2 linked regions of the Homo sapiens genome follow. The protein of the gene in region 1 purifies or fractionates together with the protein of each later gene. This does not show direct contact. Each region holds a gene or a part of one and is shown on either strand. Other genes may lie near its edges.

The links.
Region 2: the proteins of DIRAS3 (region 1) and SLC30A1 purify together in Homo sapiens (affinity purification with mass spectrometry; 4 studies listed by BioGRID and IntAct, with this or other methods). This does not show direct contact.

What each region holds. Positions count from the first base shown.
Region 1 is NC_000001.11:68,047,608-68,055,347, reverse strand, and holds the start of DIRAS3 (GTP-binding protein Di-Ras3 precursor), read left to right. Parts: upstream 1-4,720; 5' UTR 4,721-4,800; intron 4,801-7,740.
Region 2 is NC_000001.11:211,576,147-211,583,667, reverse strand, and holds the start of SLC30A1 (proton-coupled zinc antiporter SLC30A1), read left to right. Parts: upstream 1-4,506; 5' UTR 4,507-5,055; coding exon 5,056-5,677; intron 5,678-7,378; coding exon 7,379-7,521. UniProt on the Homo sapiens protein: Zinc ion:proton antiporter that could function at the plasma membrane mediating zinc efflux from cells against its electrochemical gradient protecting them from intracellular zinc accumulation and toxicity.

The sequences.
Region 1 (7,740 bases):
AGAAACTGTAAAAGATGAACTTCTGCAATATGAATTTGAGAAATAAAAAAAAAAAAACAACTGTACCTCAAGGAATGAAATTACCACTTTAAATCAAGAAGACAACATTTTTAACCCAAAACTAGGAAAATTAAATAGATGTCAAGGAGAAGATACCTGTTTAAAAACAGAGTATAAATTTAAAAATCAAAACCCCTTAAAATTTTATTAAAATCAGATAATACTTCAAGAAATCTTGTTGTTTTAAATATAAGGAACCAGACTCTGGTTCTGTATCAGTGCCTGTCCCCTGGTCCCCTACCTGAGAACGTTTAATTTTTAGAAAAACACACAAACAATTTGTTTTTAATTCCAGCCAAGTCAATAACACATAAAACTTCTTTTATTAGCTCATCCTTTATTAGTCCTCTTCAACTTTAGACCTTTTATTTTCCTAACCCCTACCTCTTAGTCCTATAATTTTTCTTTTTTTAAAAATGTGGGATAACCAATCATTTTATCTTATCTGACTATGATACAGACATTTATTTTGTATATATGATTTAACATAAAATTTTAAGACTTTAAATTACATGAGTTCATTTATAAACATTTATTTCATTTACAGTTAATTTATTTTTTAACAATTATACCTATATTTCTTACAAAAATTGAGATATTAGATGGAGCTGGTCATTATTTCAAGTTTTTTTAAATTAAATAATTATATAGCCTGTTAACATGAGGTGTTTACCCACATAAGAGCCATAAAGTTAAATACATGGGTATCTGTAGATAACTCAGAAAATACAACTTTTGTTTTTTTCCTTACAGGCAAAGGCTCACTCTGTTGCCCAGGCTAGAGTGCAGTGGTGTGATCATAGCTCACTCTAGCCTTGAACTCTGGGCTCAAGGGATCCCCCCTCCTCAGCCTTAAGAGTAGCTGGGATCACAGGCACATGCCTGGCTAATTTTTAAATTTTTTTATGGAGATTGGGTCTTGTTATGTTACCCAGGCTGATCTCAAACTCCTGGGCTCAAGTGATCCTCCCACCTTGGCCTCTCCAAGTTTTAGCATTGCAGGTGGGAGTCACTACCCAGCCACAGCTGTTTTTGTTAAATAATATTAAATTAATCTTATTTATCAAAGAATTGCATAAATATATATCACTTTGCTTTAGGCCTGGTTTATAGCTTCATGACCTTAATAGCACAGGCAAATATAAAACTGACCAGTGCTGGTGCTCAGAAACTGATATGCCAAAACATGGTATTTGACACGCTAAACTAAAGAAGCCTCAAGGTCTCTCTGACTTTTCCTCCAACCCCACCATCCTTCCCAAAGAAGCTGAAGTTCCTTTATCTGCCTAACAACCAGACCCACCAAGGAGAGCAATTGTTGGTTCTCCTCCTCCTGTTATCTCATCTGTTAAAGAAAAGAAGACCAAAATGTAACCACACCCAAGCAGACCTTTATAGAAGTACAATGACTGCCTCCAAGGATTATTTAAATTCCAAAGAAAACTATTTACAAGTTAATATCTGTTGCTCAATCCAATCATTCTCTCACCAATCATTCATTGCCCCTCAATAAATTCCTCTTCTCCTCCCATAATCTGTTTTACCAGAATCCAAGCCCCCCATTCTTTCTGTAATTTCAAGACTAGTGTATAAACTTCTATAACTCATTGAGAAGTTGGGTCTTTATTCTGAAAGCTCCTGTGTATACACATTAAATACATTTGTATGTCTTTTCTCTTACTAATCAATGTGGCCCATGTCAGTGATTTTCCAGCAAATCTTTGGGGGGCTGAGAGCCATAGCCCCCACACCAGTAAACACAGGCAAAAATATATATTGACAATTAGAAAGACGTTTTTAATTTTATTTTATCAACAATTTTAAAACCAATTACTTTTTTAAAGATTAAGTTACATGAACTAAAAAAATTAGGTTAATTACTATGTTTTTGTGTGAGTGCCCATCTATTTAAACCAATCAGATTAACATTTCTTAAGGGATTTTTGGCCTACCACACTGAATTTTATTATGTAGACATAACATACAACATAATACATGTACATATGTGTAAATATATTTAAACAAATATACACATAAAGGTCTTCTAGCTTTTATTTTAGAATTTTAGTTGTGAGATAGTAAAACATATAAACTTGCTGGTTTATAGAGAACAGTTGGATCCAAATTATTTTTCTGGTAAAATGAGATAAAGGCTATGAATCAAATTTTGGTAAAACAGTTTGAGTTAATTACCAGTGCAGGGACCAAAGGGAAACTTCAGTGAAGGCTCACTGAAAAATCAACCTGCAAAAGGCAGATTAATTGGAGAAAAAGCATACAAATGTATTTAATATGTATACATGGGAGCCTGCAGAATGATGACCCAAGCATATAGAGGAAATTGTCTATTTTTAACTTAGGATTAATAAAATATAGACAGCAATGTAGAAATATGATTGGACAGAAAGAGTATGAGCTAATGCCAATAAAATGAGTGGGGAAACCCAGTGAAAAAAGCCAAACTCTGTAAAATATTTAGAGGTTTATTCTGAGCCAAATATGAGTGACCACGGCCTGTGACACAGCATCAGGAGGTCCTGAGAACATGTGTCCAAGGTGTTTGGACTATAGTTTTCTTTTATACATTTTAGGAAGACAGAAGATACAGGCAAAAACATCAGTCAATATATGTAAGGTATACATTGGTTTGACCTGGAAAGCCGGTACATTTTGGAGGAGGAGGGGTTTGGCCAGTGGTGGCAGGAGGGAGGTTGTGGAAGCCAGGGTTCTTGTTACATATGTGAAGCCTGTAATATGCTTCAGAAAGAATAGATGGCATATGTACCTCAAAAGGTAAATGACCTTAAACGGTGTCAGACTCTTAGTTAAATCTCTCCCGGATCAGAGAAAGACCTGGAAAGGGAAGGAGATTGTCCACAGAACACAAATTTCCCTCGCAAAAGATAGCTTTGCACAGGACCATTCCAAAATATGTCAGAAATATATTTTGGGGTAAAATACTTTGATCGCCCTTAGGGCTGCTACCTGTCATGTGATGCTATACCAGAATCAGGTTGGAATTTGTTTTGAGACAGGTTCTCACTTTGTTGCTCAGATTGGAGTACAGTGGCTGTGATCACGGCTCACTGCAGCCTCGATCTCCTTGATGTGGGAGGCTCAAGTGATCCTCCCACATCAGCCTCCCAAATAGCTGGGACTACAGGCGGCCACCACCACACTGGGCTAAATTTTTTTAAAGTAGAGACAAGTTCTCCCCATGTTGCCCAGGCTGGTCTCTAACTCCTGGCCTCAACCTCCTTATTCTCTAGGATTACAGGCGCCAGGCTAGACCTCACAGGTCTTTAGACTTCTACGCACCAGGTACCTGGTAGGGGGAGGGATTATAGTGGCAGAAGAGCAGTACCAGTGGCCCACACCACACACCCTGGCCTCAGCTGGCTGGGGCACACAAAACCAGGTGCTACCGTCAACGACTAGGCCCATAGGGTACTGCTGTCAAAACCTGCTGCCAACAACTTCCACACACTCCCCAAAACGCTCGGTAGGCGGTGGTGCGCAGCTTTCAATGCATCCGCCGCCAGGCGCTCACAGGCAAGGGAGAAAGAAGCCAGACGGAGCTCGGAGATGTGGAGGGCAGACGCAGGCGCATTTGGAAAAGGGACTGGCGGTGGGAGGCGCAGAGGGAAAAAGGAACGACACAATCGGGCTTCCTAGCCGCTGGCGGACCCGATGGGGCGTCCTGCGAGGGTTCGGCGAGGGTTCTGCCAGGATAGTAGCATTGCGCCCAAGGAGTGAGAGGCACCCGGGGCTACTGGAGCCAGACCCTCAACCCGCCCTAGTGGGAGGCGAAGAACAACGAAAGCCTCGTATTCCCATTTCTCTAATGGCTAATGACATTAAAGGTTTTCATATGGTTATTTGCCATCTGCATATCTTCAGTGAAGTGTCTGTTTATGTCTTCTGACTATTTTCTAATTGGATTTTTAAAAATAATTGATTTTTGAGTTATTTACATATTCTAGATACTGGTTGTATGCCAGATATATGGCTTGTAAATATTTTCTCCTAGGTAAACCTTTTCAGTATCGTTACAGGGTCTTTCACAAAGCAAAAGTTTTAAATTTATGGAGTCTAATTCATCAACATTTCTTTTTACCGGTCTTGCCACTAATGTCAATTTAAGAACCTTTTGCCTAGCCTTAGACAATAGTTTGTTGTTTTTTAAAACCGTTTTGTAATTTTACTCGTCACAGTTATATCTAGCCACTTAATTTTTATGTAAGGGTTATTTTTGGCGGGGGGGAATCTATAGATGTCCTGTCTTTTCAGTATCATTTGTGGAAAAGATTATCTGTCCTGCATTAAACTGCTTTTGGACTTTCGTCTAAAATCAGTTGGACCGGTTTTTGTTGGCAAAGTTTTGCCTGAAGCTTATTCCAACAGGTGAGAAAAAGTCCACAGTTTAACAGTTCCTCCCCAACCTGTAACCCCGCCTTGAACTTCTGGACTAGCCCCTCGATTGTTGTAGATGCCAAGCGGACCTCGCGCCGCTCTGCGTTGGGCCAGCCCCTCACAGCTGGTTTCTTACCACGTATTGCGCAAGCGGAATCTATGCCTGTTACCCACACTCCCTGCGCCCCCGCACCCCGCTCCTGTGCGCAAGTCGGAATATAAAACCGCGGAGGAGTGAGCTCTTGGGGTGTCCAGTTGGTTGCCGCGGCAGTCTCTCCGAGCAGCGCATTTGTCTTCTAGGCTGCTTGGTTCGTGCCTCCGAGAAAGGTAAGTCTTTCTTTCGCTTTTTTAGGGGTACTTGAAAACAACAAGTGTCAGACAAAGCAGCAGATGCTGTTGCGCAGTAGAAGTTTATGGGCGAGTTGTCCCTGAAACTGGAACCAGGTCTTTCTTGGCGCGATTACGCAAGAACCACCCGCAGCCCTGCGGGCTCCTGGCAGGTCCTGCAACTGCACTTTGGATAGTCCCGTTGGGAAGCTAGCACTTTTTAATATAGAAGAACGAGGTTTGATAAGTGTGCGAGCTTAAAGGTTGACACAGTGTCCACTATTACAGCTGCGTAGGTAGCTAGTGTTCAGGAAGTAATAGTGGAGTCATGTAGTGTGAAAGTAAGATTGAAATGGGCGAGGAGGGTAGCAGCCGCCACAGCCACCAGAGAGAAACCTGACCTTGCAGGTGCGTGGTGATGTCCATGAGCCAGGCTGGTGCCGCAACAGCAGCGGCGGGACCTTGAGCTCCGCACGGCCGCTGGGTTTGGACGCCCTCTGGTTCCTGGAAACTTTCACCTCCCCCTCAGCCTGAGGCCAGGTGGCCTGGGAAGGTGGAAGGAGTGTGGAGGGGAGTGGGGGGGGGGGTCCACTGCCTGAGAATGAGAATTCTCTTCACATCTGGAAACTTCAGTTATCACGTGTGTCCTTTACCAATTTTTTTTCTTTTATTTTCTTTTTGATAGAGACGGCGGTCTCCCTATGTTACCCAGGCTAGTCTTGAACTCCTGTGCTTAAGCGATCCTCCCACCTTGACTTCCCAAAGTGCTGGAATTACAGGCATGAGCCAATGCGCCCGGCTGCTTTACCAATTTTCTATGAATGAATTTGTACATACATCCCCTAGAGCAGGAAGTAATGTAAAACAGAATAATTAGTAATGCACATTTCCTAATGTGGGATGTTGGTGGCCAAGAGATATTTGGTCTTTACTGGAACTCTTGATACTAACATGGAGTTTATAATAGTTGTGGAGAGTGCAGACAAGGCTAGGATTTCTGTGACTAGAGAACTCTTAGTGCGTGAAGACCTAAGGAAAGCTGGATTGTTGATTTTTGTTAATAAATAAGATGTGAAAGATTGCATCACTGTAGCAGAAATCTCCTAGTTTTTTAAGCTAAATTCTATTAAAGGTCATCATTGCTAAAGGAATTGTGCCCAGGATTTGGATAGCTGATGTCATTACTTAATATTAGATGATATCAACTAACCACATCTCATAGACTGGAATAAAGTGCTAGATTTTACCTGAAAGCTGCAAAAATGAATGGTTTAGATATATGTATGTATTTATTTTATATCAATTTCAAATATTTACTGTATTAACCTCCCTGGCCCCCTTTAATCAAGAATATAAAATCATCTACTTAAATTTTGCCACTTAAGTTTAGAACACTCTTAGAATCACACTATCTTAAAGAAGCCAGACTAGAATTAGAAGCAAGTTAAGTCTGAAGATATAACAACCAGCAACAACATTTTTTTTTTTCAAATGAAAACTCTAATATGGGGTGGGTATGTTGTGTCACACCTGTAATCCCAACACTTTGGGAGGCTGATGCAGGAGGATCACTTGAACACAGGAGTTCAAGACCAGCCTGGACAACATAGCAAAACCCTGTCCCTACAAAAAATAAGAAAATTAGCTGGGCATGGTGTCACATGCCTGTAGTCCCAGCTACTCGGGAGGCTGAGGTGAGAGGATTGATTGATCCCAGGAGGTTGAGGCTGCAGTGAGTCATGATCGCATGACTGCACTCCAACCTGAGGGACAGAGCAAGACCCTGACTCAAAAAAAAAAAACAAAAAAAAAAAAACCACCACCAAAACTCTAATATGGACATATTACTCTCTCATGGGACTTGCACATTCTAAAAAGGGTCCTTTTCCCCAGTACTGGGAGAGTATGTGTTCAACTACGCAGCCAGCAAGACAGGCTAGTTTATATAGGGAGTGTGCTATTCACAAAAAGCCTCTCTTCTCTTTCTGGTATTGTACATGACACAATCATAGCTGTACCTGAAGAGAAGTGCATTTTAAGGACCATCATCACCTAGAAACATGTATAAATTTCTATACCTAGTGCCACAGGAATGACATTGCCTTGTACTATTCCTACCTCTGTCCAGAGGCCAGCTATGTGGTCTGTCTGCATGGTGCCTAGAACTTTTTCCATCTGACCTAGGATGCTTCTGAAGCAGTCCCCCTGGGCAGCTGTCTGGTATTTAGGATATACCTGTGAGAAAAGTTTCTTACAAACCTAATCTACTATGTTTATTCCTGAACTCAAAAAGTTCATTGACTGTTCAAATCCTGAAATTTTCTCTATTTCCATAAGGCTGAATTAAAAGTACTTTGTTAAAGGTAGTAGCCATGGCAAAAGAAAAACCACTGTTCTGTAGAAAAACTCATTCAATATTTACAATCTTTTCTAATCAGAGATTAGATCCTGAAGAGAAAGGTTCATATATATATATATATATATATATATATATATATTTTTTTTTTTTTTTTTTTTTTTTTTTTTTTACTCCACTGTCATTGTGACTAAGGATTCATGAACTAAGACCCCTCCCTCAGCTCTTGGTGGCACATGGTGACAGCATGCTCAGAGCAAAGGTGCTCCCCATGCCTCTTCTGGGGCTGCACTGACTGCAGGTACCTCCCCTCTCTACATCCCACACCACTGATACCAAAAACCCCCTCCTTTCTCCTGTACTGATGACTCTGTAGCTTTAACCAGGGCGGCGGTGTCACTCTAAATGTCACCTTGGCATTCAGCCCCATAGAGTGGGGAAAATTCCCTCACCTGTTTCTCTTTGACTGTTCAGTCCTCTTCAATTAAAATCTTAATTTTACAAGCGAGGAAATGAGAGTGTTTCTTGTAGGGGTGTAGTGAGAATTTAATAAAACAGTTTAAGGAAAGAAAACAAAAGGTAGT
Region 2 (7,521 bases), about 140 Mb from region 1:
AGGAGGGCAGAGTGGCTGTTTGGAGAAAGGCAAGATAATTTTACAGTCTAGAAGAGAGCCTGGAAATGCTCCCTTCCACAGAAGTTCCAGCTCCTGCAGCCTAGTTCCGTCCTCATGCAACCTTCCTTCCGTGAGGTTCTGCCTACCAAGAGGGAAGGAGGAAGGACCTGTGCAATGAGCTTTAACCCGAGACAGAGAAAGTGAACAAACTGGAAGTCCAGCTGGCAAATGAGTCCTTTTTGTGTCCATATGAATGAGTTCGCCTAGGTGAAATAATTCAAAAGTGGTTTCTGAATTTGCAAGTTGAGAACTCAGCTCTGGATTCTTGGTGACCCCAAGTACAGGAGGCCTGAAAGGCCCTGTCTGAGAATATGCACTAGGCAGCTCCATCTCCTGTACTCACCTTTTAACTCCAGTTAAGAAGCTATCATGTACACCCCATCACTGAGAAGATGTGGAAAGTGAGGCCCAGAGAGGTTTAGTAACTTCTCCAACATCACACAGTAACTTTTAAGGGCCAGTCCCTGAACTGTCATCCTAAAACTCATTAGGTGTGTGATCCTTTCAAAATGCTCTACTGGCCGGCATGTTTAGGGATGAGTAATGGAGAGAGTCATAAAAACATACTTTTAAATTAAATTCTTTTTTTCAAATTTTCTGTACATTGTGCTTTAATTACCATCTCCAGCCCCAAGAGTAGAAGGGCTAAAGAAAGAATGGGCATTCAGTCTAAAGTCTTAACACTGACTACCTGAGCCTTCAACAATTTCTGGTATTAACATTATATAGCACTGCACCCAAGAAATTCACAGATGCTTTTAATGAGTGTTTCTGTATAGATAGCAGTGCCTTTATTTCTAGATTGAATTTCCAGGCATAACTGGAGAACTTAGACCCAGTTTCCAGCCTCCAAGAAAAATAAGTTCCTTTTGCTGCTAGCCCTCATCTGCTATTCTTTTTTTTTTTTTTTTTTTTTTGAGATGGAGTTTTGCTCTTGTCGCCCAGGCTGGAGTGCAATGGTGCTATCTCAGCTCACTGCAACCTCTGCCTCCCTGGTTCAAGCGATTCTCCTGCCTCAGCCTCCCGAGTAGCTGGTTTTACAGGCATGCACCACCATGCCTGGCTAATTTTTGTATTTTTAGTAGAAATGGGGTTTCACCATGTTGGCCAGGCTGGTCTTGAACTCCTGACCTCAGGTGATCCACAAGTCTAGGCCTCCCAAAGTGCTGGGATTACAGGTGTGAGCCACTGTGCCCGGCCTATTCTTTAAATTAACAAATATAAAAATTCAGTGACTGTTCCCAGCCTCTTACTGTACAGTTTCACTCTCTGCACTGTTCCTGTTTCCCCTTTGCTGCTACGTGGGTTTCCTGCTCTGACCATTTCTTTCATATGGTTTCCCTCACACCTCTGAGACTTTAGTGCTATTTCTGGGCTTTATTGCTGCATTGTCAGTTGTTTATTCTTTGTTCCACTGCCTGTTCCTTTGAGAGCAGCTGAGAAATCAAACCTTGGCCTTCATGTTGTTGGTAGAGATTTCACTTCATATTTGTAATAATTATTCATTTATGTTTTGAGAGATTTCCCCATCAGTTTTAAGATTGAACATTAGAAGTGATTTACTGTCAGCCAAAGTCAAATATAATGTGGTTTTCACAGGGTTTTGTTATTTTATCTTTCCAAGCAAGGTACAGCTTTATACACTCATGATTTTTGATTACCAAAATTCAGAAGTACGTTTGTGTTTAGCAGTTTTTACGAGAATCTTACAAGATCATTTTAAACTTTCATTAAAAGCAAGGAGAGGTCCAGAGGGCTTTGAGATTGCAGTTTGTCTGAAGCCCTTGACTTTCATTCAAATTGGCAGTCTCTTTTCCAAAAAGAGCATTATTCTCTCATCTTTAAAGTATGCTGGGTTTAGTCAGTTTGGATACTAAGCAAGTTATCAGGAGATTTCTCAAACATTAAGAAGAGAAAGCCAAGCCGTCTTACTCAACCCAGGGCCACAGCCTCCAGGGGTGTTGGTGAATAACAGTATAGTGTCCCTTCATTTTAATCTATTCCTGCCTGTGTTGACACTCTACTAGGACAACCAGATGAAAAGGGAAAAAGCTCGAGTTGAGGTACCAAAGTCTTTTGCCTACACAATGTTAGAGGGAAACAAAGTCTGACTGAAGTGTTCTGCTGTGTGGTAAATATTACTCTCTCCAGAGAACATGATTATAACTTCTCTAGAACCTGGAAAATGTACTCCCTGCCCCCTCTGCCCCGCCCCCAACCACCCACCAGGAGGGAATAAAGCACATTGTCTGGGAAATGGCTGAAATGCAGGCACAAAGTAGGTTTTCAGAAGCGGCTATGAGTTGAACCTGTTTTTATATGGGTCTAAAAATCTCCCAATTTAGTCTGTTTAGTTATTGAAGGATTGCTATTGTGTTTGCAAGCATCACTGACTTTTACATCTTCTTATTGGTTCTTCTTTGGGTATCAAATCTTCGCATTTGGAGGAATGTATTTTTTAAATAAAGCGAGGCACAGCAGCCCTTAGTAGAAAGCAAAATGGTCTTCAAACTGCCTCTAGGCCATTTCCATGAGGATATCTTGACCCATAAGTGGCTTCCGAATTTCTGTATATGAGGGGCTAGTTGATAGGATGTTTGAAGCTGTGTTTACAGATGATCAGAAAACTGTCACTCATCCATATCAAAGGAGAGGAAGTTATGGAAGTCCTAAACCCATTAATCCACCCTTTAGCACTGCCCAAACCCAGACTTCACTTCAAATTAAGCACATTAAAAATGGAGTTCATATTTTCTCCTAAAAATCAGCTTCTTGGCCTCCCTTCCCAACTTCCTCACCTGTTTAAGGCAGTATTTTCCTTGTCAGGTTAGAAACATTATAACTATCTTTGTTCTCCTACCTAGCTTCCTCCTTCCCAATACCCAATTAATCATCAAATTCTATCATTTTTTCCTTAATAATGTCTTGAAAATTTTCCTCCATTCTTTATATTCCAGCAAAACAGAAACAGAAGGTGAGGATCCAGCTCTCCAGTCTGGATGGGGAGACTAGAAACACACTACATACAAGTGAAAAAAATTTCATAGGAATTACAAGAATACCAAAACAATGCAAAATAACAGCTCCAAACAAGCCTTGTATACACATCTCCAGGCAATAGCTGGCACTGCATTTGTCCAGTAGTAATCTAGGGCAGTGGGTGGGGAGGTCCTTCTGCTGCGCAGGGGCTGTGGTGAGGCCTTTCAGGTCCAGCTTAAGCCACTCTGATTCCAGCCACCACCCCACCTTAGATGGGCAAGCTGTTCCTTTCCAGATCAACTCATCTCCACCCACAACACAGTGCTTATGTATTCAGTCTAAAATAGCACAATTTATCAAGAGTATTCCATCGTAATTTTAAAATGTCGTGTTTATATTTTACCTCCACCTGGACAGAAACTCGTTCCTTTGTATTCTTACTGCCCCTCCACCTCCCCATAGCAACCAGCACAAGATTCCACCGTGTGTAGTCTATAAATAAATGTTAAATCATAGAGCCTTAGAATTTTGGAGTCAGACGGGGATCTTCAGAGTTGCATTTGTCCAGTCCTTTATAGATGGGGAAACAGGTCTAGAGAGATTAGGTGACTTGCTCAAAGCCACACAGCTGGCTATTGACAAGGCAAGGAGCAGAGCCCAGGTTTCTCCTGCCTGAAGTCTGTACCCTGAACTGTCCTTAGATAATCAGTGACAGACACCTGAGTTCACACAAGGTCTCCAGGGGTTGATGGTGATAGGAGAAACTGGCTTTCCCAAAACATGTACAAAGATTCGGTCCACGCCCCTAGCAGACCTTCGGGAGGACTAACTCCTCAGCTCGGCGTCCAGCAGAGTCCCAAGTTACAGTCGCACTTGTTTATGCGTCTGTCGGCCTCCTCCGACAGGACCGAGTACTCGAGGGCCCCGCGCTCAGGGGCTCCCCTCCGGCCCCTCCCCCGCCGCCGAGCTGTCACACAGCCGCCGCGCGGCCCGCCCCCACGTGGACTGGGCTCGGAGGATCAAAGTCTGTTTGCAGACTTTGCAGCCCGGCCCCCGCAGGTGTGCTGGGAGTTGCGATGGTCCGCAGGCCAGGACTCCGCCACACCCGAGGGGACCCGGCCAGCCCCTCCCCCTCCCGCTGCACGCGGCCCGCGCCCCCAATTCGCCCGCCGCTGCACCCGGCCACGGCCCCCCGGCCCACGCCCGGCTCCGGGAGGAAAAGGCCCCGCCCCTATCTGTTGGAGCCGCGACCCCGCCCCCTTCCCGCCCCTCCGAGGCTCCATCCAATAGTGAGCGTGGCTGGGCGGGACGCCGAGGCTGTCGTGAGGGGGTCCTGACCAATGGGGAAGCGTGCCGGGCCTGGTGGGCGGGGCGGCAAGGCCTTGTCACGCTCGGGTCCGTGTGAAAACGGGGGTTCCGAGTGCAAAGCAAAGTTTTTTTGTAAACCGTCTGCAAAGGCGGGGGGGCGAAGAAGGCGCCCGAGACCGGGCCGAGTGCAGCTGCCGTGGCCGCCGCCTCTCTAGCTCCTCAGCCATCCGCTCCTCAGTCCAGCCGCCGCAGAGGAGACCAGCAAGCAGAGCCCTCAGATGCTCGGAGCTTTCTCGGCGCGAAGCTGCCCGTCGCCCTCTCCTGCCGCCCTCGCCCGCCGCCCTCCTGCTCCTGCTCCGGCTGCGGCTCTTGGTACCCCGGCTCCGGGAGCCCAGCTCCCCGCCACCGCCGCCGCCTGGGTGTGGGGGCTGCTGAGGCTGAGCCGGGCCTCGGCGCCGGCTCTGAGGACGGACGCCTGAGGAGCTGCGCGGCGCGGCGCCGCCGGCTGGCGGAGAACGCCCACAGGCGCGGGGCTCGGCGGCTTGACCCGGGCTTGTCCCCGTGCGGCCGCGGGGGCCCCTCAGCGGTTTCCCGAACGGCCCGACTCGGGCGCTCCTCCGTGTCGCGGTCGCCGACCCTCCGCGTCCCGCCAACGCCGCCGCTGCACCAGTCTCCGGGCCGGGCTCGGCGGGCCCCGCAGCCGCAGCCATGGGGTGTTGGGGTCGGAACCGGGGCCGGCTGCTGTGCATGCTGGCGCTGACCTTCATGTTCATGGTGCTGGAGGTGGTGGTGAGCCGGGTGACCTCGTCGCTGGCGATGCTCTCCGACTCCTTCCACATGCTGTCGGACGTGCTGGCGCTGGTGGTGGCGCTGGTGGCCGAGCGCTTCGCCCGGCGGACCCACGCCACCCAGAAGAACACGTTCGGCTGGATCCGAGCCGAGGTAATGGGGGCTCTGGTGAACGCCATCTTCCTGACTGGCCTCTGTTTCGCCATCCTGCTGGAGGCCATCGAGCGCTTCATCGAGCCGCACGAGATGCAGCAGCCGCTGGTGGTCCTTGGGGTCGGCGTGGCCGGGCTGCTGGTCAACGTGCTGGGGCTCTGCCTCTTCCACCATCACAGCGGCTTCAGCCAGGACTCCGGCCACGGCCACTCGCACGGGGGTCACGGCCACGGCCACGGCCTCCCCAAGGGGCCTCGCGTTAAGAGCACCCGCCCCGGGAGCAGCGACATCAACGTGGCCCCGGGCGAGCAGGGTCCCGACCAGGAGGAGACCAACACCCTGGTGGCCAATACCAGCAACTCCAACGGGCTGAAATTGGACCCCGCAGGTGAGCCGGGAAAGTCGCTGCCGCAGGTGGTTGGGTTTGGGGTGCCCAGAGCCTCGCCTGGCCTTCGGCGGGGTGGCCCGCACGCCCCCTGCTGCCCGAGCGGGCCTGCGCCGCGCCGCCCCTGCCTGCTCCCTCCCCGTCCTGCACACGCCCCGCTGCTGCTCCAGGAAATCAGAACCCCCTCAGTCGGGTGCAAGGAGCCGGCGACGCGTCTGGCATATTTGTAGGTGGGGGCTGTGGGTCAGACCCTAAGAAAAAGGGTCAGGAGGTGATCATCATCCCGCTGCAGTCCACACCCGCACTTGGCTGTCTTTACAGGCTGCAGCAACTTTGCTGGAGACTTGTCTGGTTATGGTTATAACAGCGTCAGAAATGCTTCCCAATTCAATTCCTTGGCCCTCTTGGGAAACGGAGAGAATCCCCAATTCGTCCCCAGTAGTTGGGTGCTGGAAACCTTGCTCTGCCAAAGTAGTTCTTATGCCCATTGAACTCCGTTTCATAATATGCATTCAGAGCGTGTAAACCCTGGTTAAAGGTTTCTTTTATGAACAGCAGTGTATGCTTCAGCTAATTGATCCCTAATCCTGGAAATCATAGATTTAGGACCTGTCTGGGCATGTTTAACATTTTCCCAGGACTTTTCATAATCGTACTGAACTAAAAGTGATGGTAATTTATTCATCTTATATTTTTAGTGGATGCTTTTTATATTTAACATTAAGTGCTCTTGAAGGAAATTTGAAAATAAATGTTGAAAGAAAGGAGATGGAAATGACTCAACCAGTGTCCTACTACCCAAGCTCAATGGTGCTTAACAATTTGGTCTTATTTCCTTCACTTACGTTTATTTACCTTGTATCATTATAAATTATGCTACATAATTTTCCTTTTCGAGTGCAGAATATGAAGTTAGTGAAATTCAAGTTGTACATTGGAAAGGTTTAATAAGTAATTGGTTTTCCTCTCACTCCACTCGGCAAGGTGTTATTCCAAAGAAAATTAAGTTTCTCTGGTGTGTAATTTCAAAAGATCAATACTTTTTATCTTTTTGAATACTTTTGATCAATACTTTTTGAAAAGATCAATACTTTTGATTTAAAAGTTAGTAGGGCAGGTAGTCATTTAGTTTCAATTTTTCTAATAATCTCTGTGATTATTGATTTTTATTGTTGATTTGTCAGTTTTTAAACCCCCCTACCAAGAAACTTTTATATTCATAATAAAAGTTTAAAAGTTAAAATTGGTTTTATTCTCAAGCAATTGGCCTCAGTGACAAAGAGTGACTAGAGAGTGCCCGAGTGTCAAATCAGGTATTTTGTATTAGTAGACTTATTCCTAGCTGCATTTAATTTTGGTGTTAGCATTCAATTTTATGTTTTCCTTTGTATATACCATAAAGTATAGCAGAATGGTTGCAGGACTCCACCCCCATAGAAAATATACACTATTTTGGAGAGGAGGAGGCAGGAGAGTGGTTAGGAGGGTGAAGAAGCAGTATCACAATGACTTAATTTAGCCCTGGCTATTATGTCCTGGCTCATTCCCAGAATGTCAATTTATATTAAATTGCTCTGAGCACATTTTTTTAATTGTACTTTCTGAAAAAATTTTCACCTTCATCACCACTTAAAAAGAATTAGACAAGGATGTTTATATAAACACTTTAAATGTATTTGATATAAAATTTTTATTTCTTTGTAGACCCAGAAAACCCCAGAAGTGGTGATACAGTGGAAGTACAAGTGAATGGAAATCTTGTCAGAGAACCTGACCATATGGAACTGGAAGAAGATAGGGCTGGACAACTTAACATGCGTGGAGTTTTTCTGCATGTCCTTGGAGAT